2 separate regions of the Homo sapiens genome follow, and region 1 is linked to region 2. The links come from fine-mapping of genetic effects on gene expression. A gene starts in region 2. The other region holds a variant in brackets. All regions are shown on one strand. Distances are between the middles of the regions. Region 1 holds the start of LOC105370904 (a long non-coding RNA gene). Region 2 holds the start of PSTPIP1 (proline-serine-threonine phosphatase interacting protein 1).

What was found. PIP is the estimated chance that this variant, and not a neighbour inherited with it, causes the effect.
Region 1: its variant is fine-mapped to the expression of PSTPIP1 in aorta (GTEx, PIP 0.97).

What each region holds. Positions count from the first base shown.
Region 1 is chr15:76,966,165-76,981,897 of GRCh38, forward strand. LOC105370904 (a long non-coding RNA gene) reads left to right here and starts at 6,740. Exons shown (of 3, transcript XR_932492.2): 1 at 6,740-6,804; 2 at 7,591-7,767. It also overlaps the pseudogene RN7SL278P and the pseudogene KRT8P23. The variant C/T (reference allele first, on the strand shown) is at 7,403.
Region 2 is chr15:76,988,292-77,004,024 of GRCh38, forward strand. It overlaps PSTPIP1 (proline-serine-threonine phosphatase interacting protein 1), which reads left to right and starts at 6,835. Exons shown (of 15, transcript NM_003978.5): 1 at 6,835-7,318. The coding sequence starts at 7,283. RefSeq lists enhancers at 81-240, 6,540-6,589 and a silencer at 6,830-7,019.

The DNA.
Region 1 (15,733 bases), 22 kb before region 2:
TGATCCACCCGCCTTGGCCACCCAAAGTGCTGGGATTACAGGCGTGAGTCATTGTGCCCGGCCTGAAATCTGTGTTTTAACAAGTCCTCTGGGGGATTCTCATGCACAGTCGGAACCATCGATTTCAACATGATTCTACTGGAATGGTTCATCAAATGGCTTTACTTGTAGTTTAGTCTTTATTCTTTGCTTCACAATTCTGTGCACCTGAAGTATCCTCATCGTAAGGCTGCTGTTACCCTGTCAGCAACAACTGTGAATGGAGGGAAGGGGGGACTTGGGAGGTGGGCAGCCTTCAATCTTCACACCTTTAAAAGGGGCAAGAACTCACAAGCGGAAAAACAACAACATTTACTCTAAAGAGAAAAGCAATTGCTATTTGGAAACAGTGGCAGAGCAAATTGAGGTGATAACCATAAAACATTTTTACTTCTGACAAGAGAGTCCCTTTAGGGCAGGTAATGGTCTGTTAAATATCAAAGGAGCAGACCAAAGACCTAAGGACACTTAATATGGAGAAGGGATGAGCTGGGGAGAGGGAAGGGATGTGGGCTCTGTCTCAAGGAGCCACAGCCCCGTCATGTAGAAGAGGACCAGGAACAAGAGGCATATGCAGTGAGCCATGAAAAAACAGTTGGGGGCTTCTTCTGATACAGAGCTAACCAACAATGGGATGGCATCTTAGGAGTAAAAAGGAGTTCCTGGCACTGGGAGTATGTAAGTCTGTATGGTCGCATGACAGAGATGCCATAGTAAAGGCAATTCTTGTATCAGGCAAGAAACTGCACCAGGGTCAATATTTTGCAGACTTTAAAATCATGTTTTAAAGCAGAACTCTTTCTTCGAATGAGATAATACACCATGGTACCACAATTTATAAAACAAAGCGGGGCCTCTTTGGTGATCCCTGGAATAGGGATCTGGAGCCCTCCCATGTGGACACCTCTTTGGAATATCCTGGGTGCATATCAAGTCCTTTCCGACAGGAGCTCCTTTGATTCTGTGGTTCTTTGAGAATTTTCCAAACCGGAACTTCTGCTCCCCTCCCAGGCTTTTCCTGAGCTGCCCACACACTTCCTTGGATGTGGTGTCACCAAGGTGGTGATGTTTATGGGGAAGGGGAAAGACGTGAGTGTGTGCACTGCTGCAGCCACATACCTCACATGCCCCTCTCCAGGGATGGCACACGGTGAGGGCTTTCCATGCTGGGGTCAAGGATTGCAGGGGCAGCAGATGGCAGAGGCTGCAATTTGAGTTTAACCAAGCCTTTCACCACCTTTGGTGCAGACAGGAGAAAAGGCAGGGAGCCCCAAAGCCTGCGCCAATGGGAAGGGCAGGGGTAGAATTGGTTTTGCCATGCTGGGGGAAACCTGTCTTGAAGGTAGCCTAGGAGACTGTCAGAGCCTGCCCTGGTGGTGGGATTTCAGAGGTGAACCTGGGGGACTTCCCAGACTCTAAAGGGGCCAAATGTGAGAAGGCCCATGGACTTGCCACAGAGGGGAGGGCCGCCAGCCAGGGCCTGCCTTTGTCTGCCCAGACTTGCTGGCTCTGAGTCTGTTTTTTCCAACAGAACCAGAACTTTGTCATAAAATTCTTGGACTACTTGAGTTTCTGGATTAGAAAGTCTCCTCCTCACCCCCTCCTCACCCCCTCCCCACCCCCACAATGATGATAGCTCCAGTCTTTCTCATAAACACCTAACAAGAGTAAAATGTTTTCCCTTCAGAAGGATAACAAAAAGAATAACACCAAGGAGATTTCGTTATAGTGCAGCTGCTTCTCTGGTTGGCAAGAGACACAGCTGTAACCTGGAGCTGTTTTTGTTTATTTGAAAGGAAAGGCAAGACAAGTATTCATTAATTCCACAAACATTTACTGAGCCCACAGAGCCACTGGGATTCTGCTGGTCACTGGGGAGATACATATATATGTATATGTATAATACCTATATATAGGTATTATATAATATACCTATATATGTGTATTTAATATACCTATATAATATACCTATATATAAAATATATATGTATATGTATGTGTGTGTGTGTATATATATATATAATATATATGTATATAAAATGTATAAAACTGGGTCTTGCTCTGTTTCCCAGGCTGGAGCGCAGTAGTGCCATCTTAGCTCACTGCTGCCTTGAACTCCTGGGCTCAAGAGATCCTCCCACCTCAGCCTCCCAAGTAGCTGGAACTACAGAAGCAGCCACCACACCTGGCTAATTTTTTAATTTTTTGTAGAGATGGGGTTTTGCTATGTCACCCAGGCTGATCTCAAATGCCTGAGCTCAAGTAATTCTCCTGCCTGGGCCTTCCAAAGCACTGTGATTACAGGCATGAGTCACTGTGCCCAGCCATTGAGGATATTAAGTCAGCCCCAGCTCTGAAGGTGCCATCAGTGAGGAGGAGATGGACATAAGAAAATCACAGCCCAGGTTCTAAAGGCCTCATCTTCTTTAAAAAAAAAAAAAAAAAGAAAAGAAAAGAAAAAAGAAAGAAAGAAAATCACAGCCTGGAAATCCGTGAATTGACACTGATAAGTTCACACAGGCTATACAGTTAGCCAGGTGAAGAAAAGAAGGATACCAAGCCTTCTAAGCAGAGAGTAGAGCATGTGTGGGCAGCCCAGAGTCAGGGAAGTGTGGGCTTCCTCCTTGGTAGAGAGGGGCATGAGAGGTGCTGGGTAGAGAGGGCCAGAATGTTATAGGAAAGGCATCCTGATCCAGACCCCAAGAGAGGGTTCTTGGATCTTGCACAAGAAATAATTCAGGGTAAGTCCGCAGTGCAATGTAAAAGCAAGTTTATTAAGAAGGTAAAGTGGTGAAAGGACGGCTACTCCATAGACAGAGCAGGACGTTCCCGAAAGTAAGAGGAGGAAGGCGTCCACCCTGGGTACAATGCTTGTATATATGGAGAGATGTGCTCTGCTACAAGGGTTTGTGATAAAGGATTAATTTTCTTAATTATGATATTTTGCAAGAATTGATATTATTATCTTTAAAGCAAAATTAGGAATGCCTGTGTTCTCCAGATATCAGGATATCTGGACATTCCCGTCTGGGTCTGTTTAGTAAACATTATTAATTTTTTCCCTTAACTGTAAATATCTAGAGGCCAGGAATGCCTGACTTTCTGAGAATGCAGCCCAGCAATTCCCAGCCCCATTTTCCTAGCCCTTACTCAAAATGGAGTCGCTCTGGTTCGAATGCCTCTGACAAGAAGATAGACCAATATGAGGGGCCAGGCAGGTCTGGTGGGTGCTGTCTGTCAAGCTGAATTTGGACTTTATCCTATGAATGATCAAAAACTGTTGATGGGTTTTAAGCAGGGGAGAGTCTTGACCACATTGGTAATATAGAAAAACTCTGTGAAATAAGGATGTACAGGATTTGCATCTAAAATGAACTCAGATCAAAATACAAAAGGCAAGCCTGCCGTGGTGGCTCACATCTGTAATCCCAGCGCTTTGGGAGACTGAGGTGGGTGGATGACTTGAGGCCAGGAATTGGAGACTAGCCTGGCCAACATGGTGAAACCCTGTCTGTACTAAAAAAATACAAAAATTAGCCGGGTATGGTGGCGCGTGCCTGTAGTCCCAGCTATTCACAAGGCTGAGGCAGGAGAATCACTTGAACCCAGGAGACAGAGGTTGCAGTGAGCCCAGATCAAGCCACTGCACTCCAGCCTAGGCGACAGAGCAAGACTCTGTCTCAAAACAAAACATAATCAAAAAAGGCAATTAGTTGCAGGACTATTTGTAATGAGAAACAGCCCAAATGTCTGTCAATAGGCTGGCTGAATGAACTATGGTACAGCCATGCCAAGAAGTACTAGGTAGCTGGAGAAAGAAGTGAAGACTGTTTCCATATAGAATATATCATTAAGAAAAGGAATGTGTGTCTCACAGTTCTCTAAGGAAGGCAGGGATGCAAATATATAAACATGTAAATGTATCTGCTTATATTTAAAAGCACACAAGCAATGGAAGGATAAAGCAATGAAAAGTGGCTACCTGTAGGAGGAGAGAGGGAGCAGAACGGAAGAGATAGAGATGGAAGCTGGACTTATTTGAAGATAGCTTGTTTTGTACATGTGACTTTGGAACTGAGTAAATATTTCATAAAAGTAAAAAAATTACATAAAAATGAATCCCCCCAAAAAGAAGCAAATAAACATAATGTGCATCTGGTTGGTGGAGTCAGCACACAGATGAACTGTTCTAAACACAGTAATTTGACTGTACAACCCCAAAAGGATATAGCCTGAAGACAAAAAGAACTGCAAATACACAAACGAAAATCTTAAATTGTTTTCAGCAGTCACTTGGCTGATGGGAGACTTGGTATTGGTGTTCTGAGACTGTTGTGTGCAGTGTGGAATGAAGCAAATGAGAAATTATGTGAAATTCTAATTCTGGAATTCCTGGTGTTTTTGAGAAATGAGATTCTGGACATGGGAGAAAGGAGGTACAGATGGAAGAAGGAAGAGGTTGTGCAAACACCCTGTAGACCTAAATTTAATTGAAAGTATCAATATGAACTTATGATGTGCCTTATATTTATATTGAGAAAAAATGTATTTCCTAGTTCTGACCTCAGAAAAGACCTAAGAACAATAAGCATTTCAGTAGCTATGAGCACCCCAGTACCTAGATTATCTTCTTGAAATATACCCAGTAAAAGAACTAGTGTTCCCTGAAAAAGTGATTGATTCCAGGTCTGAGACAGGAAATGGACAACAGGTGACTGGAACATTGGCCATATCAGATGGCAAGAAAGTTCTCTAAGACAGCTAGGGTGGTGTCCAAAGGACTCAGGAGTCAACTTGAAGAGGCCCCCTCTGGCCAAAGATGGGACCATTTTTGCATCAATAAAGGCAAAAATTGCAATGGATTGAAGCACATCAAATATGTTTAACTCCATGAGTTCATAATGATACTAAAACATATCTAATTGGTCACCTTTGGAGTATTCGGTGGTTCATAAACTGATAAAGAGAAATAATTGAGCATTTATCCCGCCTATACTGTACAAACTACTACTGGGTAACCAAATAGTAGATAAGGAGACGTTTCTCTTTATAGAAGTAATTCAGCTCGTAAATCAAGAAGAAATGGTAGAATTAGAATATTGCCATGTGGCAATCCCTAATTAATGGATAGTGGCACTGATCAGCAATGTCTGCTAATATCACAAATTGAGATAACCAGACCTCATAGGCCTCCTATGAAGTATTCTTGCCAAAAAATTGGACCTGAATCTAGATTCAAATGGCAATTTACAGGAAATACAGGAGATAGAAGAAAATATTAAAGGACACAATGGATATGCAATCAGTCATTCTATACTGTGGGAAGCTCTACAGGATAAATGATCTAGTTTCTTTCTTTCTCTTTTCTTTTCTTTGTTTTTGAGACAGGGTCTCGTCTGTCACCCATGCTGGAGTGCAGCAGCATGATCACAGCTCACTGCAGCCTCAATCTCCCAGACTCAAGTGATCCTCCTGCCTCAGCCCCCCTGAGGAGCTGGGACTACAGGTGCACACCACCATACCTGGCTAATTTTTGGTTTTGTTTTTTGGCAGAGACAGGGTTTTGCTATGTTGCCCATGCTGGTCTCAAACTCCTGGGCTCAAGTGATCCACCCTCCTCGGCCTACCAATTTCTGGGATTACAGGTGTGAGCCACTGCACTGGGCCTTATTATCTAGTTTCTTAAACAAATAGGCTGTAAAGAAAAACAGACAGACATGTAAAGGAAACTGATAGTTAAAAGAATCACAACCTGCAAAACTTATTTAGATCAAGATTCAAACAATCTGAACAGAATAAAATAATTTTTTGGTGACATATGAAACACAATTAGAAATTTGAACACTGGCTGAATATTTGATTATATTAAAATTATTGTCAATTGTTTTTAAGTGGGATATTGTGGCTATGATTATTTTCAAGAGTTTTAAAGGGAGAAGAAACATAAATACTTCTCAAAACTCTCTTCAAAATCATCTTCCTTCACCAGTTTCCTCTCTGCTTAGAATAAGCTTGTTATTTCAAACTCAGGGCCAATGCAATGTGAAGATGAAAAATAATTTGGGGAGCAAAATATATCGTGGATATACATATGTAAAAATATAGTATGTATACTTACATTCCCAGTTAAGTATAGTATTCCTAAGTCAATTTATAGAATTTTCAAGCACATTTAAAAAATAGTACTGAATTATTGAAAATACCACCGAAATTCCTTCCAGCTATGTGACTATGCAGAAGTTCCAGATTAAAAAGTCCTTAACATAAGAGAGATGTTATGTAATCGTCTTTGCCTATGAAGTTAATGTCCAGATTTTGGACAAAAACATGTTCACCTCATATCCTAAAAATAAGTATTTTAAGTCTTTTCCATACAGGTGCCAGAGAGTCATGTGTTCATTTTATTAACACCAGAGGCAATAACACAGTGCTAAAAATAAGCACGTGTCTATGCATGTATTTTTAACTACAGGAATGGCATTATGTTATAAAAATCTCACTTGGTTTCCTACTTTTCTCATTAAACACTTTGATTTTAAGATATATCCATTATATCCATAATGCGTGTACTTGCAGTGCAGCAACCCCACTTTCCTTATCTACTCCCGGGCCGGCGGACTCTCCCGCCGCCCCTCGCTCCCTCCTCATAGGCACAGGAACAGAATTTCTGAGTCATAAGACTGATACAGACGTTTCAGTCTGGAAAACTGCAAGCACGGCAGATGCCAAAACCCCTTTCCTGTGCCTGAAAGAGAACTTCTGGAGGTATGAAGGGCAATAATGCCTCCCATCCTCCCTGTGGCTCCAGAATTAACTCTCGAAACAACAGGATTTGGGGTAGGAAGGTTACAGCTAAGGAGCCGCCAGTCCCCACCCATCTGCTCTGGGAGAAGTTATCTCGAGGTCCAGTTAAGCGGTCCAGCAACTCCGAAGGACTCGCTGGAAAGTCCTGCACACCAAGCTTGCCCCTTCTGCATAGCTCGGGGTAGGGAGCAGCCACCTCTTGTCTCAAGACTGAGGAGGCCTGGGGCAGGGCGGGGCAGGCAGAAGACTTGAGCAGGGACACCCTGGGATGAGGTGGTGCCTCCTTGATCGCTGCACCTGCCCCTGCACCTGGGGTGGGTCTGAGGGGAACAGCATCACTAACTGCTGGACTGAAGCCACCATAGGAAGCTCAGGCTTCTTGGGCTAAATAAAATTCAGAAATGTCCAGACTGGCTGTGACACCAGGCTCTTCAAGCAGCCCTGACACAGGGGGTCTAGGGGGCTTTTGCTGACTTCTGCTGCTCCACCTTCCTGGGCTCTAGGAGGCGCTGTTCCTCCAGCATCCAAGAATCAGCCTGAACCAACGGCAGCTGCCAGG[C/T]GACAGCTCAGAGCCCAGTGGGGGTGGTAAAGACCATTCAGATAAAGGCTTGGGGAAGAACAATGGAAATTGTTCCCGGCAGCACCCAAACCTGGAAAACTCTTTTGGGGCAGAGCTTGGGTGTCTCCTGCCTTGATCTCAGTGCCATCTTTCTCCCCTGGCTCCAGAAGTTTCTTCTATTCTTCCAGATTTTCCAAATGCAGACCAAGAGGGATTGAGCTCTCCTCTACCCTGCCTGGCCCAGAAGTTCCATTTCCTACCTCCTTCTAGCAGGGGAGCAGGGGCCTTCCTTGGTGGCCCCCAGGATGGCCCTATCTCAGAAAGACACAACCACGACTTCTCTGTATAATAGACACCACCACACAGTAAGTAGTGGGAGGATGGGGTGGGGAGGGACTTTTATTTGTCCTTTAGGCCCTTAACCCATGGCATGACTCTGATGGTTAAGGACAGCCTGGGACAAGTCCAGTGAGATTAGGGTAGGAGAGTGGGGAGGTGAGTAAGACCCCATGGGGGTGTGAGTGCCTCTGAGGCAACCTAGAGTGGAGGTGGAGGGGGTGGCAGACCCTTAGGAAATAAGCATGACCCCTGGCTGGGTAAGGGCACCCACTATGAGGGTAACAGTCACTCGTTCATCCCACAACCATTTTTGATATCTGTAGGTGTCAGGTACCATGCTAGTTGAAGGATATAATTGTGAACAAGTGATGTGTGGGTCTTAGTGTCGAAGAGCTGACATTGGAGGATATCAGAGACAAAAATCAAGTAAGCAAATACAGCATTGTTAACTGCAGTAAGAACGAGGAGGACAGACACAGGCCCACAAGGAGGTCCGGGTGGCTCCTGGCATCAGGGCCATATGTAGCTCAGCTTGGGGTTCAGGGTCCTAACTCCAGCTCTGGCAGGCTGGAGGAAGAGTCCCACATCCAGATGAAGTGGCACTTATGGGTCTGAAAGATATAAGCCCGGGTCTAGGGGCTGAGTGGTCCTGTATGCCAGGGGGCATGCCAGGAGCTTCACCATGTTAATGTGCTTCATCCAGAGAGGAAGCTGACCACCAGCAATGCTTGTGAGACTGGCTGCTGGCTGCCTTCTTATTCTCCTCTTGGGTCAGGGCTGACCCTCTGATGGGGTGGGGCTGAGGCTGGCCAGCAGGGAGGCCAAGCTGTTGGATCAGAGGAAGGCGATGTCAGACACCAGCCCCTGTCACCCACCAGCTCTTCCCTTCCCATTGTCCCTGGCTGGCCCTGGCCCAGCCTCTCCAGCATCCTCATTTGCCTCCCTGCCTCCGGCTCACCCTGCCCACATATCCACCAGGGGCTGCCGTTGTTTCTCTGATTAGTTACTGTGTTGCTGCCAAATTAATGCTTCTAAACCATATTTTATAACAGCAGCCTTCATCTGCAGAGAATCTTTGAAAATACTTGGCTTGGCATTTAAAGTGGTACAAAAATGTGGCCTTACTGAATTTTTACAGCTTTATTTATCCTTTCAGAGGTGCATCCTGCACGTATGTCAAACTGTGGGTCCTCATCCCTCTGCCACACCTCTGCTCAGTTATCTTTCTCTCCTTCAACCCCCCTCCCTGCCACCCTCCTGCATCCCTCTGGGTAGTGAAACAGCCCCTTATTCAGTCAGCCAGCCTTGCATTCAGCAGGCTCTGCAGGCTCCCACTCTGTGCCCGCCATTCCTGGGCAGCACTAGGACCCCCCCTGCTCTGACACCTCATCCACTTGTTTTGTAATCTTATTAATCTTCATTTATTAACTCCTGAATGAGACCTTATCCTTCTGCTCCTCTGAACTGTAACCCTTCAATGGCAGAGGCTGCATCTTGCCCATTCCTTGGCCTCATGGTTCCCTGCCTGTGGCAGGGGTCAATAAATGTGCTACATGACCTGGACTAACATGGGCTCTGGAAGGAAAGCACTAAATACTGGCCTGGGGGCTGGAACTCAGTCTCAGCTCTGCCACTTAACTGCTGGATAGTCTCTGGAACATTACTGTCTTTTTCTGAGCCCCAGGATCCCCAGCTATAACATGCGGCTGCCATCCGTGTCTTGGTTACCTTACTAGGCTAAGGTGGGAGACTGCAGGTGCGGGCTGTTATTATAAGGGTTTTCCCTGAGGGTGGGGTGTGTACTGGGGCAGGGGGAGATATTGTGTTTCTTGGTGCCTCTTGGCCATAAGACCTGAGCAAAGCCAGCATGAAGCCCCTCCACAACCCTCAGATGGCAACCCAGGGGGTTAAGGCGGGGGGGATGTGAGGCAATGGCCAGCAACCCCATACACACCTGTTTAGGTGAGTTGCAGATAAGGTGCTCTTATGCTCCCAGGGCTTTCTGCCAGCATTGAGGAGAAACAGGAGCTCTTCTCCAGCCAGGTGAACATGGCCTCGCTTGGCAAGCTTGCAGTCCTACATTCCGGTAGGTTACAGGCTGCTTCCAGTAACGCAGGGAAGCTGGGGAAGGATGAGTTGGGACATTTTATTATGGTGGACTATCTGAGTGGAAATGGATAGCTGAGCCCTCTGAGGACCCGCAGCCTCATTACCCAGAGGGGAAACCAAGGTTCACGCAGGAGAAGGGGCTTGTCCAAGGTCACTTTTGCAGTCTTGTCTCTAAGAATATGGATTTTGGAGACAGGGAGATTTGAATTCTGCCACTTACTAGCTATAAGAGCTTGAGCAAATTTCAAGCCCTGAGGCTTAGTTTCTGCAAATGTTAATGAGGAATCACAATTCTGATATTTTATTGCTATGAAGATTAGAGGAAATGATAGATGAAGAGCTTGCTCCTGAGTGGCTGTTCAGGCCTCCAGCCCCAAGTCCCTAGGCATAGGATGATGGGGGAACTGCTGAGAAGGGCCTTCTTGTTTCTCAGGCAACAAAACTGCCAAAGGCTTTAGGAGAGAATCCTAGTGGGGTTTGGGTTGGGGGAACTCTGATTTCAAGGAAGTGAGTGGCTTGGGATCTGGTCCAGCCTTCCCGTCCTTTCCTTTCATTCATCTGCTCATTCATTCCACAGATGTGGATTAAGCATCCACTCAGGGACAGATTCTGTCCTGGATGCTGCTCTATCAAAGAGAACTAAAACCCAACTGCTCCCCACCCTAAATGCTCACAGTCCAGTGGAGAAAGAGAGAGAGAGACAAGGCAAAGAGACACTGTCAGAGTGAAATTGCTGTTAGAGGTGTGTGCATGACACACGGGGAACCCTGAGGAAGTGGAGCTGCTGAAGAGTCATGCTTCCTTTTTTTTTTTTTTTTTAACTGCAGAGCACTTTGTTATGGTTGAGACCTACCTTTCTGTATAATTTTATAACCTGCTATTTCTTCTTAAATTTTTTTTAGAAATGAGGTCTCACTATGTTGCCCAGGCTGGAGTTCAGTGGCTATTCACAGGTGCAGTCCCACTGATCAGCATGGGAGTTCTGACCTGCTCCATTTTGGATCTGGGCTGGTTCACCCCTCCTTGGGCAACCTGGTGGTCCCCCGCTCCTGGGAGGTCACCTTGTTGATGTCAAACTTAGTGTGGACATCCAATCAGCACAGCACACTGCAGCCCAGAACTCCTGAACTCAAGCGATCCTCCTGCCTCAGCCTCCCAAGTAGCTAGGACTACAGGCACGTGCCACCGCATCCAGCTATTATTATTTTTAGTTAACATGTAGTAATTGTACATATTTATGGGATACAGTGTGCTATTTCAATACATGTATATGATCCATAATGATCAAATCAGGGTAATTAGCATACCCATCACCTCAAACATTTATCTTTTTTTTTTTTTTTTTTTTTTTTTTTGTGATGGAGTCTCATTCTGTCACCCAGGCTGGAGTGCAGTGGCATGATCTCAGCTCACTGTAACGTCCACCTCCAGGGCTCAAGTGATTCTCCTGCCTCAGCCTCCCAAGTGGCTGGAATTACAGGCACTCACCACCATCCCCAGCTAATTTTTGTCTTTTTAGTAGAGATAGGGTTTCACCATGTTGGCCAGGCTGGTCTTGAACTGTTGAACTCAGTGATCTGCCCGCCTTGGCCTCCCAAAGTGCTGGGATTACAGGCATGAGCCACCGCATCCAGCCCATTTATCATTTATTTGTGTTGGGAACATTTAAAATCCACTCTTCTAGCAATTTTTAAATATACAATAAATTGTTAATTATAGTCATCCTAGGGTGTTATAGAACACGAGGGCTTATTCCTCGTATCTAGTTGTGATTCAGTATCCTTTAACCTCTCACTATCCCCCACCCTTCCCAGGGTTTAGTAACCGCTATTCTACTTTCTACTTCTACGCACTCAACTTTTTTAGCTCCCACATATGAGTGAGAACATGTGGTATTTTTCTTCCTGTCCTTGGCTTATTTCACTTAACATGATGTCCTCCATGCTCATCTGTATTGCTGTGAATGTCAAGATTTCATTTTTTTTCTGGCTGGATAGTATTCCACTGTGTATGTATACCAGATTTTCTTTATCCATTCATCCACTGATAGACACTTAGATTGATTCCATATCTTTGCTATTGTGAATAATGCTGCAATAAATATGGGAGTGGAGATAGCTCTTCAATATACTGATTTCCTTTCCTTTGGATGTATACCCTCTAGTGGGACTGTGGGATCATATGTTAGTTCTATTTTTAGATTTTTGAGGAAACTTTATACTGGTTTTCATAATGGCTGTACTAATTTACATTTCCATGAATAGCATATAAGACATCTTTCTCCACATCCTCAGCATTTGTTATTTTTTGTCATTTTTATGGTAGTCATTCTAATTGGGATGGGATGATATCCCATCACCATTTTGATTTGCATTTTCCTGATGATTATTGATGTCACACATTTTTTCATATACCTGTTGGCCATTTGTATGTCTTTGAGAGATGTCTATTCAGCTCATTTGCCCATTTTGAAATGAGATTATTTGTTTTTTTGCTGTTGAGTTATTTGAGTTCCTTGTGTATTCTTGATATTAGTCTTTTGTCAGATAGATAGTTTGCAAATATTTTCTCCCATTCTGCAGGCTGTCTCTTCACTCTGTTGATTGTTTCCTTTGCTGTACAGAAGCTTTTTAGTTTGATCTAATTCCATTTGTCTATTTTTTGCTTTTGTTGCCTGTGCATTTGAGGTCTCCATTAAATCTTTGCCCAGACCAATCCAATGTCCTGAAGTGTTTCCTCTATGTTTTCTTCTAGTAGTTTTAGTTTTTGCTTTTCTTTCTTTTTCTTTTTCTTTTTCTTTTTTTTTTTTTTTTTTTGGCATAGCTAGCTGAGGTTTTCTTTTGGAAAAAAAAATCGAATTGGCTTGTAGCTGGAGGCATGGCCAAGTGGGACACCCCAGGCAGTAAACTCCCCCTGCGGGTGGGCTTCAACCTCCCCCACAGGCTCTGGGGCAGCCGCAGGAGGGATAGGCTGGGCGGGGCTGCCATGGCCGTTCACCTGGGCAGGACGTCTGAGGACTAGGACACCAGCTTCCCATCGCGGGTCTCCATCTTCTTCACAACCATGGAGCTGGTGCGGCTGAAGGAGCTGGAGCCTCCAGCCAGAGCCAAAGCTGGAGCCCAGGCCGTAAGCTGAGGCTGGGGCTTGTGACGCCCCCGTAGCCCGAGCTCAGCACATCAGCATAGCCACTGGTAGTCTTCGTTTGGATACTCATGTTCTGCATCCCAGACGCCAGCCGGCTCTCCTCGCCCTCCAGCAGCTTCCTGTAGGTGGGATTTCCATGTCCAGGACCAGCCTGACGTTCATCAGCTCCTGGTACTCAGGCAGCTGCCGCACCATGTCCTGCTTGGCCTGCCGCAGGGCGGCCTCCAGCTCGGACAACTTGGCATTGGCGTCCTTAACAGCCAGCTCCCCGCGCTGCTCGGCATCTACCATGGCGGCCTCCAGGGAAGCCCTCTGGTCTTTGAGGCCCTCAATCTCAGCCTGGAGCCGGCTGATGTTCCAGTTCATCTCCGAGATCTCAGTCTTTGTGCACTGCAAGTCATCGCCGTGCTTCCCAGCCAGCGTCTGCAGCTCCTCATGCTTGCTCTGGTGCATGCTCTCAGCCTCAGCCCGGCTGCGGTTGGCGATCTCCTCATACTGTGCCTTGACCTCAGTGATGATGCTATCCGTGTCCAGGCAGCGGCTGTTGTCCATGGACAGCACCACAGGCGTGTGGGAAATCTGGGACGGCAGCTCCTGGATCTCCTCTTCATACAGTTGCCTGAGGAAGTTGATCTCATCAGTCAGCGCTTCCAGGCCAGACTCCAGCTGTACCTTGTTTATGTAAGCTTCATCCACATCCTTCTTGAGGAGGACAAATTCATTCTCCATCTCTGCACGCTCATTGATCTCATCATCCTACTTGTTCTTGAAGTCCTCAACCAGCCCCTGCATGTTGCCAAGCCCTGCCTCCAGCTTCAGCTTGTCCTGGCCCAGAGTCTCCAGCTGCTGCCAAAGGTTGTTGATGTAGCTCTCGAACTGGTGGTCCACGTTGCTCCGAGCCTTCTTCTGCTGCTGCACGAGGCTCCACTTGGTCTCCAGCATCTTGTTCTGCTGCTCCAGGAACTGTACCTTGTCGATGAAGGAGGCAAACTTGTTGTTGAGGCTCTTGATGTGCTCCTTCTCCTGGGTGTGCATGGCCTGGATGTTGGGGTCCACCTCCAGGTTAAGGGGGCTCAGCAGGCTCTGGATGATCATGACAGCTGTGATGCCTCCGATACTGCTGGCCCTGCCATAGCCTCCACCCAGGCCACCCTGGAAGCTGCTGCTGCCCACTCAGGAGAAGCTCAAGGAGCTGATGTGGGCACCAGGCCCACTCATGTAGGAGCGGCTGCTGAAGGCCTGGGGGCCAGAGGTGGACACCTTATAGGACTTCTAGGTCACCCTGATGGACATGGTGGAGGCAGGAGTGGAGGCAGATGGGCTGAACCAGGTGGACATTCAAGAAGGAGCAGAGAAGCTGCTTCTAGGTCCCTTCTAGTAGTTTTCTAGTTTGGGGTCTTACATTTAAGTTTTTCATTAATTTGGATTTAATTTTTTTAATGATGAGAGATAAGGATCTAGTTTCATTTTTCTGCATATAGATATCCAGTTTTCCCCATACCCATTTATTAAAGAGACTGTCCTTTCCCCCAAAGGACATTATTGGCAGCTTTGTTGAAAATCAGTAGACTGTAAATACATGGATTTATTTCTGGGTTGTCTATTCTGTTCCATTGATCTATGTGTCTGTTTTTATGCCAGTACCATGCTGTTTTGGTTACTATAGATTTTTTTAGTAAATTTTGAAGTCAGGTAAAGCTAGAGGTGTGATGACTCCAGCTTTATCCTTTTTGCTTAAGATTTATTTGGCTGGCCACGTGCGGTGGCTCACACCTGTAACCCCAGCACTTTGGGAGGCCGAGGTGGGCAGATCATGAGGTCAGGAGATCAAGACCATCCTGGCTATCACGGTGAAACCCAGTCTCTACTAAAAATCCAAAAATTTAGCTGGGCGTGGTGGCGGGTGCCTGTAGTCCCAGCTACTTGGGAGGCTGAGGCAGGAGAATGGCGTGAACATGGGAGACGGAGCTTGCAGAGAGCTGAGATTATGCCACTGCACTCCAGCCTGGGCGACAGAGCAAGACTCTGTCTCAAAAAAAAAAAAAAAAAAAGATTTATTTGGCTATTTATTCTTTGTTAGCCTGCTTTTTTTGTAGTTGTTATAGATAGGGTCTCTGTAGCCTCCACCCCCGCCCCCACTGCCTCCCCAACCCCCTGCCCTGGGCTTAAGTGATCTGCCCACCTCAACTTCCCAAGTAGCTGGGTCTACAGACACGTCACCCACACCTAGCTAATTTTTGTATTTTTTGTAGAGACTGGGTCTTCCATGTTGCCCAGGCTGATCTTGAACTCCTGGGCTCAAGCAATAAGCCTGTCTCAGCCCCCTAAATTGCTGGGATTACAGGTGTCAGTCATCACACCCAGCCTAACCTGCTATTTTTATTTGGTATTATGTAATAAACATTTGCCCTATAATATTATAAAACTCTTGGTAAACATTTTCAATGTCTGTGATGTATTTTCTGTAAAGCAATGCCATAGTTTTTAGGTTTTTGGTTTTTTTTTTTTTTTTGGCGGGGGGAGGGGGGGTGGGTCTCATTCTATTGCCCAGGCTGGAATGCAGTAGTGTGATCATGGCTCTCTGCAGCCTTGACCTTCTGGGCTCAAGTGATCCTCCCACCTCAACCTCCCAAGTAGCTGGAATCACAGGTATGCAACATCACATCCAGCTAATTTTTTGATTTTTTTTTTTTTTGAGACAAGGTCTTGCTACCTTGGCCAGGCTGGTCTCAAACTCCT
Region 2 (15,733 bases):
TGGTAGGCACACTTTGTGCTGTTTGAGCACCTCCAGATAGTCCCTGCAGGCTCTTCCATCACTGCAGTCCTCCGTCCTCTGACCAGTGATCGGGTGGCAGTGGATTCCTGGGACTCACTGAGGCCCCTTCCCCATGCCCACCAGTTCCTGGGCCACCTCCCGAAGGGCCACTTTGCACCTCTTTGCTGTCTTTCAAGAATCCTGACCGGCACTCGGCTTCTGACGACTGATAATGCTTGGAAACTCAGAGTCACACTCTTGTGGCTGCAAATTAGTAAACCTGAAAGCTCCTCGTCAACTCAGGCGAGCTGTGTGAGTGGGAAGAGGCCTTAGTTTTTGCAACTGCTGTCCCTGGGGGCAAACTGAAAAACAAACTGTATCACATCCTGAAGGCCAAAGGCCACACCCTCAGCCCCAGTGGAGGACTCTGGGGCAAGGATATTTCCTGGAGTCAGAGGAGAGGAGCCTCCATCTGAGCGCCACACCCCCACCCCGCATGGGCTCTGCACTTCCTCCTCAGTGGGGACTTGCTTTTCCCTTCTTCCTCATCCTGTTTCTGCCCCAGGCCCTGGCCCCTCACTGCCAGCCCCACACTCTGGGGAGGAAAGACCCTTTTTAGCGATGGGACTCCGAAAAGTTAACTGACCTGTCTAAGCCTCAGGTTCCTTATCTGTTGAATGTGGCCGTAATGCCTCACACTGTTGTTGGGAAGATTAAGTGATACATAAGGCATGGGAAGTGCTTACAGCAGAGCCTGATGCAGCACAGCCCTAGTAGACTATTAGCGTTATTCTGGAACTCCCTTCCTGCCTCACGGGTGAGCTCTTTCCCATTAATCAAGACCCAGCTCCCCTCCTTTGGGAGGACTTCCCAGGCCAGGCTCCTCAACAGCCTTTCTCTGTTGTCTGCGCACAGCACATTTTCCCTTCCTAGGCTGCCTCCCTCACCAGACTGGCAGGGGCTGAGCTTGTTCATTTGCATGTTCCCAGACAGGAAGGCTCAGTCAGTGCTGGTGGGTGTGCTGCAGTGGAGCTTGTTCCAATCTGGGACAGGGTAAGTGGGGTGGACAGTGGTTGCCCCAGTACAGTAGGCATGTGCCTCTGGCCACCTGGAGGGACCCTACAGGTATTTCCCCCAGCAATAGTGAACCATCATGGCCAGGTGCTGGAACATCCCACTTCAGCCATGGGATGGGTGCACAACCCTACAGCCATGGGCAGCGTCATGACAGTGCATCCACCGAGGTCTAAATGGCCGACTCATGAATGCCCTTCTGGCCATAAGCTGATGGCAGGTTGAGAATTACTCCTGCAGGACAGATGCTCCCCTGCAGAAGGGAGAAGCGTGCGTCACTTGCCCTACCCCTTGGACCAGTGGCAATGCCATCTCCAAATGAAATTCATGGCAAGGGCCTCCTGGCTCTTCGAATGTCACCAAAGAGCTTTCAGACCCTCCTTCTCTCCCTCTTCTTTCCAGCCCCTGCCCCTCTTCAGAAGGCTGGAAGCTCTCGCTTTAGATTCTTCCTGGATAACAAATTAGAATCTTAGGACCCTCAGAGTGCAGTCCCGCCCTCCAGCTTGGTGTCAGCCTCACCTCTGAGAGCTATTCCCCCAACAACGTCTTCTCTTCCAGCCCCTGAGAACTTGGCTGAACTTCCTTCAAAATGGTGTTTATTCGGCCAGGTGCAGTGGCTCACACCTATAATCCCAGCAGTTTGGGAGGCCAAGGCAGGCAGATCACCTGAGGTCAGGAGTTTGAGACCAGCCTGGCCAACACTGTGAAACCCTGTCTCTACTAAAAATATAAAAATTAGCCAAGCATGATGGTGCATGCCTGTAATCCCAGCTACTTGGGAGGCTGAGGCTGGGAGAACTGCTTGAACCTGGGAGGCAGAGTCTGCAGTGAGCCAAGACTGTGTCACTGCACTCCAGCCTGGGCGACAGAGCGAGACACTGTCCCAAAAAAAAAAAAAAAAAAAAAGGAAAAAAGAAAAAAGATGTTTATTTGCTTTCCATCTTGCCTGCATTTTGTCCATTTGTCCATCCATTTATTGGTCAGGAAAGGCTTTCCTGAAGAGGTGACATTTGATAAGAGGGCCAAGGGATAAGGAGTAGTTAGCTGGGCCAAGGCAGGGTCTAGGATGGAACGGGAAGAAGCTTCCAGGCAGAGGGGTGATCATGTGTGAAGGACCCGGGAAAGAAGAGAATGAGGCAGAATGGAGGAATTGAAAGATGGTCCAGGAAGCAGTATCAGAAATTGAGAGAGGCATAATGGGAGTTGAAGTTTTGAAGAGTAGGCTGGGACCAAATTATGCAGGGTCTGTAGGCCATGTAAGGGCAATGGCCATTGTCCTGAGAGTAATGGAAAATCATGGCAAGGTGACAGTGGGACGTTGATATGACCAAATGTGGATCTGAAAATGTCACTCTGCTGTGTAGAGAGCAGACAGGAGTGAGCAGGGTTGGTTTCATAGATGTACAACTCGTGTAAGCAAATTGTACTTGGGGTCTAATGCTCTGAGATTGCTGTCTTGGAATTCTTAATCACATTATTTTTGAATTTGCTTTTCTTAAGTACAGTCTGGTGGGACAATGAAGCATACATCAAGGACTTGGAGCCTTGGCTCCTGTGGTCCTGCTTCCAACTGCCTCCCCTGGACTTGTTCTCAGTCTTCTCCACTTCTGCCTAGCAACCACTGCCACACTCTGCCCCCAGCAGAGACCTGAGTGCAGGCATGGGGACAGTCCGGGTCAAGGGCACACCTGGTAGCATCTGAGGATTGGCCATGGCAATGTGGCCCCTGCCCCAGGCTGGCAACACCATGGCAAATTCAACAGGCGACTCAGGGGGCTGAGCCTCTCACTCACTTCTGACCCTGGTTCCTAGTGCATCCTGGCCTGGATTTTGCAACACCCCTGGGGACTGCCTGTCCGCTGTGGGTTGGTGAGGCAGGTCCATGGGAAATGGCAATGCCTGGCTTGACTTCCCCAACCTCCGCTGGGGAACGCAGAATGCAGATCAGCGTGGTGGCTGACAGGAGGAGAAGTCCAGCAACTGGTGAATTTCACACAGAACTGAGTCAAGTCAGAGGGTGGGGCGGGGCAAGTTGTCCCACAGATATTCCCATGCCCAAGGGAGTGTAACGTTAAATAACAAATCAAAAACACCATTCCAGGTTGAGAGAGAGACTGCAGTAAAGAAACAAGTTTTATAGATTAGTACCTTTAACGGCAATTTTGTCCCTGCTTTTTGAGTAAGAGGTCTCACATTTTTATTTTGCACTGGACTCGCAAATTATGTAGCTGTCCAGGCAGTGAGCAATCAGTGAGATCAAGCTTGTGAAAGTGATGGAGGTCCTGTAAATATTGATCCTCCTTCTGTGGCAGCTGTTGTTACTGGTTTTGTTGTTTCTGTGGCTCAGAGGGATGGATGAAGTGTCTTCAGGAGCGGAGTCCTGCCAGTCAGTGGTGGGGGCTGTGACAATAAATGTTATAAAAACTGATTTTGCATTTTATTCTCAATCCTTGTAGCTACTGCTTCTTGAATTCTTCAAGCAGATGTGTTCAGATACCAGGCAAAACAGGCAGGGGCTCTGCCTGGGAGGGGTATGCCCCCACAGCCTGGCCTGAGGCACAACTGCACAGACCTCAAGGCAAATTGTTTTGAAGCAGCTGGAACAGTCACTAAAAAGCGGTGATTTTCAGGGATGGATTCCTCTCCCCAAGGGCCTGGGCCTGGGTGTGGGTGGGGCTGGTGTGAATAGGGGCCCCCTAAGACAGTACTCTTTTCTGAGGGGCACTCAGACATCTCAGTCTTGCTCCTCCATCTCCCTGACATCCCACCAATCCACTCAAGCCCCATCGCACCTGCCCCAACCAGACCTCATTCCTGTAAAAGTCATCACAATATCTTCTTCTGGTCTCACCCGCTCTGAGCCACTCCTTATGGAGAAAGAACTCCCTAGAACCTGTCTGTCAGTCTCTAGGCCCCTCAGAGCAAAAACCAAGTCTGCCTCCCCTTGAGGCCCCGGTCCCAGCAGGACCCTGCAGGAGTTGGTGCTCAGCAGTGCTTGTGTGCCTGGGCTGAGGAGAAGGTTGTGGTGGTCACGTGGTTGGCTTTCGGCATCCCCGGCTGCCCATTCGCAAGGCCAACCATGGGGAAGTATGAGCACGTGACCCACCTAGGGCCAAGGAGACACAAGGGAAGGTCTCCTGGGGAGCTGGGCAGAAGGGAGGGTGCAGGGGCTTTGGAGAAAATGAGACACAAGGGCAGGTGTCCTTTTCTTTCTCTGCTTGTGGCTGTGTCTGGAGTTGTAGATGAGCTGCTGCAGCTCCTTGGCCTCCAGCCCAAGGAGGAAGATCGTAAATGCAAGAGAAACTCAGAGAGACTGAGCTGAAGCCCTCATGTACCACAGCTGGAGGCTGCCCTGCCTCCAGCCCCGTTGTGTAGATGACAGCACACGTCCTCTGTGTCAGACCCTCTGGTTTATGTTCTTTGCAGCCAAAAGCATCCTCAACTGATGCGAATAACACAGTGATGCAGAATAGCATGTGCTAAAGGCTGGCCTCTCATTCCTATGGCACCATCAGCCCCGGTGGCTTCCCTAGATTGTTTTTCCTTTTATTGACTTGGGTGAGAGGGTCTCGAGGTAGAACTGGAGAAAGGAACAATGAAACGCTTTTTGAATAGAGGGCTGTTAGTAAAAGACAACTGTGGAAGTTAAGAGCGTGTGCTTTGGCTTCGGACAGATCTAGGACCAAAGCCCAGCCTTCTGCTTATTGCCTGCTACTTGGGTGCGTTACTTACACTCTTTAATCACTAGTTTGCCCCTCTGTAAAGTGGGGATAATGACAGTGTAACTGAGGTGGTCCGTGTGAAAAGCAGAATGATGTACCCGGTGCTGGGTAAGTACTCCAAAGCCGAATTGGCTGTCTGGTCGCCCAGCCTGGGGACCTGCAACAGGTAAGGGTGGAAGGGAGGGGAGGAGGAAGGCCTCTCTAGTAGAGAATTGCAGAGTCTCTCCAGAGGTTCCTCACATTACTTCCTTCCCCAGTTGCTCCAGCCCGTCACCAGCATGGCCCTCCATCCGGGGCTGCCCTGGCTGGACAGGTACAGTTGGGAAAGGAAGGCCTCATGTGTGGGAGCCTTGAGGTTGGCTTTGAGGGTGGGAGGATTTGCCCAGGTAAGGAAGATCAAGGAAGGCTTGCCAGAAGGGAGGCTGGGAACAGAGCAGGTGGGAGTGGGAAAGGTGCCTCCAGGGAGAGGGAAGAGGCCTGGCTGGAGCAGAAGTCTCTGGGAGGTGATGGGAAGGACACCTAGAGAGGCAGGGCAGGGAGCCCAGCTGTAAAAATTTCTGCCAATAAGCAGGCAGGAGCCTTCTGTTAACAGAGGGTCTCTAGTCTGCTCCAGACCTAGAGGCATCATCCCATCTGATGGATGGAGAAACTGAGCTCAGGGAGGCTGAGCCAGTGCTATCAGAGGTGGTGGTGCCATTGGGAGGTGAGGTGCAGCCTGGCTCACTCTATGGCCTACAAAGTTCAAGGGGATTTTTACACTATTAATTGTCTTCAGCTGCAAGTAACAAAAAACCTGACTGGGGCGCCTTACAGATTAAAGATTAGCTCAAATCCAAGGTTTCTGGAGGTGAGGGCCTTCTGGGGGCAGTCCCATTGCTCTGCAATCCTCCCCAAAGTGTTTCCTCTTGGGTGGCTATTTCAGAGCCTGGGTGTGCCCCCTCTCTCTAAACCCTGGGCATGCATAATGGGCACTTGGGAGCTCAACTATTTCATCTGCAGCAGCTCTCATCTTATCACCCCGTCAGCTGTAAGGCAGACATCAGTGAGGGTGGTGATTTGCGGACAATCCCTGACTCACCCCATTTTGCCAGCCTGCCCTGGGCTCAGGACTTCCTGCTGCATCTTCTGCTGAGCCGGCAGGGCGTGGCGTCTCAGGGCTGGGGCTGGGGCTCTAGTCCAGGGCTCTTCCTAAGGTGGTACCACACAGTGCCCCCAGCACCTGCCCACCAAACTGGAAATTCCAGAAATATTCTCGACACCGTCTACTTTCCAAAGACTGGGTGTGGCAGATGAGGAAGCTGAGGCTCAGCGAGTTGGGGGGTCTATTAAGGTCCCTCAGCCCCTGAAAGGTGGGGTCAAAATTAAACAAAAACTGGGCCTCAGACTGGGTTTCCAAACACCCCACTCTGTGCCTTGATAATCCTGTTTCTCTCTCCATCCATTCCCATTCACTGAGCCGGAAGCCTCCATCTTCAGAAGGGGGTTCTCTGCCCCAAACAGCGTCTAATCTGGAGACTTGCGGTGGTGGCGGTGGTGGTGGTGGGGGCAGTGCCGGGGCCTCAGGCTGTTCTCCCTCATCTTGCTGCCTGCTCACCTTGCCTCTGTGTGCTCACAGCCCCCCAGAGCACAGCTGTGTCTGCTCCCAGACTATGGGCTCCTTGAGGGCAGGACCTGGTTTGGGTCCCAGAGCAGCCAGGGTTTGATGAATGACAGATGCCCTAGACCTGGGTAAGCCCCTCCAGAATGACTTGCTAGTGCGGGGTGGGGAGTCTGGCATCTCTGGGCCCAGCCTGGAAGGGTGCTGGACTGGCTGGCGGGTGACACACCTGGGGTTCCTGGGCCCCTCCTGGCCACACTGTCAGTGGGCCTCAAGCTCCCTTAGCATATGGCCTCTGGAATAAAGTGAGCCCGCACCTCGGGAGGGGGCAAGCAGAGGCAGGAGCAGGATGGCAGGTGGCAGGCGGGGCTGCACAGGGGAGCACAGCAACTCCACTTCCTGTGGGCGAGGGCCCTGTGCCTGCCCCGGGGGAGGTTGCACAAACCTTCCTGCGCAGGCCTCGGGCTGCCTGCCTGCCTGCCTGCCTGGCCCGGCCCGAGCTCCAGCCTGCCTCTTCCACTGGCCACTGCCTCCCACCCAGGGCTGGCATCCCTGCTCCCTGCCCTGGGTCCCAGACTGTGTCCTCCATCACCGCAGGGTCGGTGAGGGGCTGGGCTGGACACCAGGGCCCGCCCTCCCATCACTGAGCTCCACTCCTTCCTCATTTTGCTGCTGATTCTAGCCCCAAACAAAACAGGTTGAGCTTTTTCCTCCCCTCAGAAGCTCCTCTCTGGCTCGTGGCTGCCTTCTGAGTGTTGCAGACGGCGCCGGCCGGGAAGGGGGGCCTGGGCCAGCCCTGCCAGGACTGGGACGCTGCTGCTGGCGCCTGGCCCTCCATCAGGCCAGCCTGTGGCAGGAGAGTGAGCTTTGCCGCGGCAGACGCCTGAGGATGATGCCCCAGCTGCAGTTCAAAGATGCCTTTTGGGTGAGTGAGGATGGTTGGGGGCACTGAACAAGTGGAGGGGGCAGAGCTAGGCTGAAATCTCCATGCAGGTGATGGGATGCGGCTCCGAGAGGGGAGCTTTCTCATAAAATAGTGGTTGATTCTTGGTCTTAATTGTCATGGAGGTGGCCCAGGCCCCCACCCCTTCTGGACTGGAACGCAAGTGGACTCCGTGAATGAGCGTCCTCCTCTCTGCTGCCCCGTGTGTTTTCTCCTCTGGGAGACCTCTCCCCACAGCAGGAGCTCCTCAGAAGAGGGTAACACATGGGTGGGGGCTTGAGGAGGATGTGTGGGGCAGCAAAGGAGGGGTCACAGATTTAGAGACCAGACAAACTTGAGTTCAGGTCTTGGCTCTGTTACAGGCTGGGCAAGTCATTTCTGTCTCCAAGCCTCAGTCTCTCCATCTATATAATGGTGATAAAATAGAAATCAACACACCAACTAAAGCATTGGATCAGCAAGGGGATCCAAGGCACTAAAGCCCCCAGCACCTTGCCTCACTCCAAATGGTAATTCTGTTCCCCTCACCCAGCCCCTTGTCCCTTGCAGACCTTAGGGGTCCTTCAAGGAGGCAGCCAGGTGGGCAATGGCTTGCTTACTTTCTTAAATTCAACACGGGCTTAAATCAAGTCATTTCCCCCATGAAATAAGGGCGCCCAGCCAGTGGTAGAGGTAAAGTGGCTTGGCCCGGGCCACGTAGCCTGCAGCCCAGCTTGGACCCCTGGTCATCTCAGCACTTTTCCAGCTGTCCTTCAACTACCCCTCTGCCCCTCAGCTCTGGCTGTGCCCAGGGCTCTGGGGAAAAACTGAGACCTCTCTGGTTGGAGCTGGGGAATGTGGCTGTCCCGGGGTGCTGCCTCCAACCCCGAAGAGGACGCTCTGGCCCTCGGCTCAGCCGGCTGAGCCCCAGCCAACAGCCCTGCCCTCCCCGGGCCTTTTCCTGGGGCTGCAGCCAGGAGGATGAGAGCTATGGAGCCAGGCCTTCCTTCCCTTCCGGCCGGCTCCACTTGGGGCCTGTGGCCAGCGTGTGAGTGTTCTGCTTCCTCTGCTCTGACTGTACAGTAGGCAAAGGACCCCACGTGGGGAGGGCACCTTGTGCCTTTCTGGGCCTCAGTTTCCCCATCTCTACAAAGACAGGGTGGGCCCAGCCCAGAGAAGCCAATGGAGGCAGAGCTGCCTCAGCCCATCCGGAGGACCAGGCACCAGGATGCTCAGGGCCCAGGCTGGCAGCTGGAGCCCTGGGGGATGGGGGATGTGAGTCACCACCTAGCTGCCCTGCCTTGGTGTGCAAAGTTGGGGGAAGGGGTAGGGCCTGGAAACCCAGGCCACTCTGTAGCCCAGGGCAGGCCAGGACCCCTTGACTATTTTATCACTGAGACCTCTGTCCAGTCCTAGAGCCCCTGGGCCTGCCTTCCCTAGGGCAGAGCTGGGCAAGGAGCAGCCTCCATGGCAGGATCTGGGCACAGGTAGGGGTGGCGTATAAGGGAGCAGGGTATGGCAGCCGCAGCAGAAGCAAGCAGCCAGCCCCTGTGGAGCTTCCTGAGCGGCATCCTGCCCACACTCTGTGCTCGTCGCACCTCTGGGCTTCCTGGCCTCCAAGTGCCTTGTCTCCTCTGTGTCTGGCTCCCTGAGCCTGGGGCGGGCATATAGTTTCCCTAGGGAAGGCCAGAGCAGGAAGGGGAGAGAAGTAGCCAGTGGGAACCTCTCACACTGAGTCTGGGCCGATGCCCCGAAAGGTCACTGTAGGCATCACCTGCCCCAGGGCTCTGGATTCTAATACCTCTTCCTGATGCTCAGCCCATCCCAGTGCATAACAACTAACATTTGCTGAGCACGAAAGATGTGCCAGGCGCTGTTCTCAAGATGTATGCATATTCACTCATTCAATCCTTCAAACACATGCTACTGTTATCTCTCTTATTCAGATGAGGAAATTGAGGCACGGAGATATTAAGAGACTTGCGCAAGGTCACACTGCTGGGATTAAACCCCTGGCAGGCTGGCTTTAGCACTTGTGTTGTTGCAGGATCCCTCTGTCTATCTGACATATCACTGGATCTTTTGGCTTCGGGGTAAGATAAGAGGTAACCCCTCTTATCTCCCAGAGGGGTAAGAAAATCAGACAAGGTGGCTAGAACAATATTCTGAAGCTTCATTTGTAGACAAATCTGTAAAACAGAAAAGGCACACTACTCTGGCCACAGGTGTTATATTAGGAACAGCCCAGCCAGCTTGGCCCATGTCTGGGCCTTCCCCCACCCCAGCCCAAGGCACTGTCATTAAACCCTTCAGCCTGCCAGCACACTGTTTAGAAATGACTGGTTTTTAGGCGGGGTGCAGTGGTTCACGCCTGTAATCCCAGCACTCTGGGAGGCCAAGGTGGATGGATCACTTGAGGTCAGGAGTTCAAGACCAGCCTGGCCAACATGGTGAAACCCTGTCTCTACTAAAAATACAAAAATTAGCCAGGCGTGATGGCATGCTCCTGTAATCCCAGCTACTTGGGAGGCTGAGGCAGGAGAACAGCTTGAACCCAAGAGGCAGAGGTTGCAGTGAGCTGAGATTGTGCCACTGTACTCTAGCCTGGGTGACAGAGCTGACAGAGTGGAGGGACCCTACTTTGGCTAAACTGGAAAGATCATGTTTGATATCACAGCCCCTCAGTTATTGGGCAACCTCACCCATACAGAACACGGGGCGGAGGAGGGGAGCCAGCCCTGCTGTTTCTGGCTTTAGCTCACAGTAAGGGAGGAAGCAAAAGTGGTTTCTCAGGAGCCAAAGATGATTTCCCTAAGAGCTTTCCTTAAAGCTCATATACTACACTCCTAGGAGATGTCCCCTAGCTTTTACTCAGGTCCTATGAACTCTAATTTCACCCACAATTTTAATGAGCTTGGTCATGGGGTCTTTTAGCCTATAGATGTAGCAATTAGTGGCAGTCTGCACAGTACCTGATATACAGTTGGCGATGGATAAATGCTGATGGACCTGGACTACGAAAGGACGTTTCACAGGCAGCTAGCAGCCTGATTGCAAGGAAGGAGACAGAAACAGTCTGAAAAGCAGCTGTAGTGGCACAGAAGTAGTGGGGACACTCAGCATGGGAGCAGACACAGTCCTGTCCCTCAGTCGGCCTGTTTTTGCAATTTTGTCAGTGTGGCCACACAGTATTTATTTATAGCCTGATTTTAGCTGCAGCCGAGTGTTCAGATGCACGCTGCTGTAGGAGTGAGGCAGGGCGGACCAGCCACAGAGGGAGGGAAGGGATAATGTGATTTCTGTGATACACACAGATGATAAAGAGCATCACACCTTGGCAGGAAGTTTGTAAATGAGCCTCAGAGTGGGACCTGTCAGTGAGACAAGGTTGAATCTGAGAATACCAGCTGTCTGAGCGGAGAGGGCACTGGCCTAGCACTGAGTCTAAGGCGCTGGGAAGCCCAGAGAAGGAAGGGTCCTCCCCCTGCCCCCAGTTTGTCGTGGCTCCACTCCCAGCAGGTGGCCAAATTATTGCAAGAAATGTCTGTCTGTATCCTCTGCACAGGGCTGACAAGTGGGGTACTGGCTGAGGACGTGTTCATAGAATAAATGAATGGACAGTGAATGTCTCCATGGTCCATCTCCCTTCCTGAACCCATTTTTTACTTCATTTCACTTTTTTTTTTTTTTGAGAAAGAATCTTACTCTGTCACCCAGGCTGGAGGGCAGTGGCACAATCTCAGCTCACTGCAACCTCCGCCTCCTGGGGTCAGGTGATTCTCCTGTCTCAGCCTCCCGAGTAGCTGGGATTACAGACGTGCGCCGCCACGTCTGTCTAATTTTTGTATTTTTAGTACAGATGAGATTTCACCATGTTGGCCTGGCTGGTCTCGAACTCCTGACCTCAGATGATCCACCCGCCTCAGCCTTCCAAAGTGCTGGGATTACAGGCGTGAGCCGCCGCGCCCAGCACTACATTTCACTTTTGTTATATTCTGCAAATATTTGGTGAGTAGGGCTGTCTACTAGGTGGTCCACGCTGGACCCCTGAGCTTCTTCACCCTGCAACATCTAATCAGATGAATGAAACTGTCTTGACCTGAAGGAAGCCATAGTTCAGTGCCGGGGCTGGAGGAATAACTGGGTCAGGCAAGGAGTGCTCTGAGAGGAGCAGTATCTCAACTGTGCCATCCTCTCCCAGGTCCCCCATCCCCCGCAACCTGTATGTCTATCCAATGGCCTTTGCAAAGATGTCATTAGATATTGTTTTAAGAGGGAAAATCTAGTTCTGGACCAGATTCTATTGAGATCCACATCCTATTCCTTTTAGGGTAGTTAAAAGGAAAAGTAAGGACCTGGGGAGGCTGGGTCACATGCACTGCAGTGACTGTCACCCACCCTTTGGGTGGGAACCACCAAGGGGGTATGGGGACAATAGGCCTGAACTTTCCCCTTGACATGTGGGTGTATCTCTCCTTTGAGGCTGGGCTCTGGCTCTATCTAGAAACCCCTGTGCCACACTGGGAGGAGCTGAGCCTCCCCAAGCCCATTTAACAGGTGACAGCACCGCTGCCGAGTGGGGCAGTGACTCACCAGCTTCACACAGTGGGACCAGCTGGGCTGGTCTGCCCCTTCCCTATGTGGCACTCAGCCACTGGTGCCTTTTCCCTTCCCAGTTCTGAGATGCTGAGGTGCCCATTTATGAGGCTACAGAGAAGGGGACTGAGGGGCCCTACTCTGATCTGTCATAAAGCTGCCTGTCCCTACCCCCAGACCTGTCTACCATGGCCCAGGGGCATCAGGAGAGCCTGACATTTGCTGGGCACCTGTTCCATCCTGGGCATTTAAAGAGAGATATATATATATATATACACACACACACACACACACACACACATACACACACACACTTTCTAAAGAAACAAAATCAACTAATATAAGATCCTAAAAGGAAAGTGGGGAAATGGAGAAAAATAGGAAAAGAAGAAGCACCTTTAGTCTCATCACACAACTGCTAATATTATGCTGTGTTTGCATAAGATTGCCTTACATAGGTGCAAGCATATTGTGTACATAATTTTGTATTTTCCCTTTCTTTTACAAATTTTTTATTTTTGCAGAGATGAGGTCTCCCTGTGTTGCCCAGGCTGGTCTCAAACTCTTGGGCTCAAGCAATCCTCCTGCCTTGGCTTCCAGAGTGCTGGGATTACAGGCGTGAGCCACCATGCACGGCCCTCCCTCCTTTTTTTTTCTAGTATTTTAAATTTTATTTTAAATTGTAGCGAAATACACATAAAATGTACCATCTTAACCATTTTTGTGGTGTATGGTTCAGTAGCGCTAGGTTTGTTCACACTTTGCCACCCTCCCCTTTTTTTAGCGTAACTCACTCCATCGGGAACACCTGTGGGTGTGGACATGGGTTCCTCATTTTCAGCAACACCACTGTTCATGGCTGCACAGTTCTCTAGCTTGTGAATTTGGTGACCATGCTGTGATTTTTTTTGCCCAGTCCTCCACTGCTGAACATTTAGGTTACTGCCAATTATTTATTATTCTGGACAGTGACACCATGGGTAGATCTTTGACTATAAAGGTTTTTCACTTGGGGATTATTTCTTTGGGCAGAGGAGGCTAATGGCTATTTTCCAGGGAAGGAGGCATTTCTGGGTGAAAGAGTGGGGCCAGTTCTCCAGCCATGGGTACTAGCAGTCACTTTGGGATCCCCCATAGTCCTCTGGTTGGGCAGGAGCTTTTTCACACAGGAAGGAGGGACCCCAGAATGGCCTGGAAGGGTCAGGGCCTGTGGATGGGGCCCTGCTGGAAACCAGAGCCTGCACTGACTTTGTGGAAGGCCTTGCAGCCCAGCAAACTGCTGTGGCTTTGAGGGCCAAGGAGGCCAGTGGCTGAGGAGTGGCCCTGGTGCACTCAGAGCTTGCAGACAGTGCAGGAGGTGGGAGAGAGAGGCCCTGGCCATCCTGCCTTTGCTGCCACCAAGTACCTTCCCGGCACCTGCCTGGCTGCATCTGTCAGAAGCAGTGAGGACGGAGGCTCTCCCTTTCCTGATTGGGAAAGCTCTTTAAGACCTGGTGTTCCCTGTAAAAAGCAGAGAGCCTGGCAGTGCACCTGGTCGGCAACCCGTTGTGAAAAGTGGGGAAATAAGCATTTATACTGGCGCAGGCTTGTAGTATTAACAACAAAAATCTGTGGACGGATGCACAGGGAGCTAATTAAAGTGGTTGCCTGTTGGGAGAATGAGAGAAAGGAGATGGATGAGGGATGAGGCTGAGCGGCTGTGAACGTTTTCAGGATTGATGTTTTTATACTGTTTGATTTTTGAACCATATGAATGTATTAATTATTCAAAAATTAAATCAAACAATTAAAAATGAAAAAGAGGACATTTATTTCAAGTCCCATGAAGAATTTTTCCCTGAATCCCAGCTACTTACATCATCCCCTGAGGAGCAGCAATGCTGCCATTTGCTGAGTGCCTGTTCCATGCCAGGCATGCTGCCATTCAGTCCACATGCCCCCAAACGCATTGTCAGTGTCTTCCTGACTCTGTGATGGGACCTAAGGCACGGCAGGTCTAGGCCCAGACGAGGGTCACCTGTGCAGGGTAGAGCAGGGACTCCCACCTAGGTCTGTCGAACTCTATTGCCCTCTGCCCTGAATTCTAGAGAGTTTGTTCTTGCTTCTACTTTAATTTGTGTAGGATGAAAGGATGCTTCCCTACATGTTAACACTGGTGTCTATGGATTTGGAAGTAGGATTCTCTCCATCCCCCATCTAATTTTCTGCAAGTCAATACAGAGTACCTTTGTCATTAAAAAGAAAATATTTAAAAAGAAAACTAAGCAATTCCTGCTTTCAAGAATGAGTTGGTGTTTCTAGGCCAAATTTGTGGTTTGCTAGCATGCCCTTTTCCACATGCTCGGTGCATATTTTGTGGTACGTGGGCCTCTGGGGACCAAGAACTTCGTTCATCTGTGCCCATTCCACAGGACGTGGCCGGCTGCTCAGGTGTTAGAAGATTGCAGAGGTTTGTGGTCATGCTTGCTTTGCTTTTGCGATGCCTGCAGATGGTCACTGCCAGGATTTGCTGGCTGCAGGGTTCTGGGTCGATTTGGTGTTCTGAATTCAATTTTATTCTTGATAAAAAACAAGATCTGCTTCTTGATGACCCACTTTGTGCTCCAGTCCCCTGGAACCCACATGCTTTTCCTGGCTGCTCCTGACATCTACACAGAACTAGGGCAGCCCCTGGGATGGAGAAGGAGGGCCTTGCTTTGGGCTTTGAAGGGTGGGTGAGGATTTGAGACATGTCAGGAGGACAAACGGCACTCAAGGTGGGAGGTACGGCATGGGCAAAGGTGTGGAAGGGGGTTTGGAAGACAGTTTTCTGGCCCAGAGCATTGTGCAAGGTGACTGGTAGGAAGGGAAGGCACGAGCTGGATTGTGAAAGGTCTCTGCCCTAAGTGGTGGCAGAGATACTTTCTTCTGCCTCTCTGCACCCTCTCTGGTGGTGGCTGTTTCCTCTCATGCAAAAGAGGACAGAGGCTGCGGGCTGTGAGTGGGATGCCCTTCCTCCTCACCCAGAGCCTGGCTGACGCTGCAAACCACATGATGGAGGGAACTTTGGGTGGAAACCAAGACTGCCTCTGCTTCCAGCTAGAGAGCATGATGCCCTGGGCCCTGGGCTGCCCACACCAGGACTCTCCTCTGGGTTGGCTCTGGAAGGTTCCTCCCTCACAGACTCAGTCATGCTCCATCCTCCAGGCTTAGAAGGAAATCGGCTTCTTGGGAGGCCGAGGCGGGTGGATCATCTGAGGTCAGGGGTTCGAGACCAGCCTGGCCACCATGGTGAAACCCTGTCTCTACTAAAACTACAAAAAAATTAGCGGGGCATGGTGGCGCATGCCTGTAATCCCAGCTACTCAGGAGGCTGAGGCAGGAGAATCGCTTGAACCCAGGAGGTGGAGGTTGCAGTGAGCTGAGGTTTCACAATTGCACTCCAGCCTGGGCAAAAGAACGAAACTCCGTCTCAAAAAAAAAAAAAGAAGAAGAAGGAAGCGGGCTTCTTTGAAGCCTCACCCAACCCTCACCCACACTTGCTAGGTGGCCTTGGAGAATCATTTTCCCTTTCTGAACCTCAGTTTCCTCATCTGCAGGATGTCAGGGTCGTCATCACTTAAGATAAGGGCTTTGAGGTTGGGGCGGCTCAGGGCAGTGCTAAGGGACCACCTCCTGCTCACCACAGTGGAGTAGCAGACCAGGAACAGTTCCCAGGGGACCCAGATTTATAATTGGATATGCACCCATAGGGTGAGCCTTATACATAGATCTTGCTGTTTCAGAATGCCTCCTCCAATCATGTTCACCATTGCATGTTATACTCCACCATTAGAGAATCAT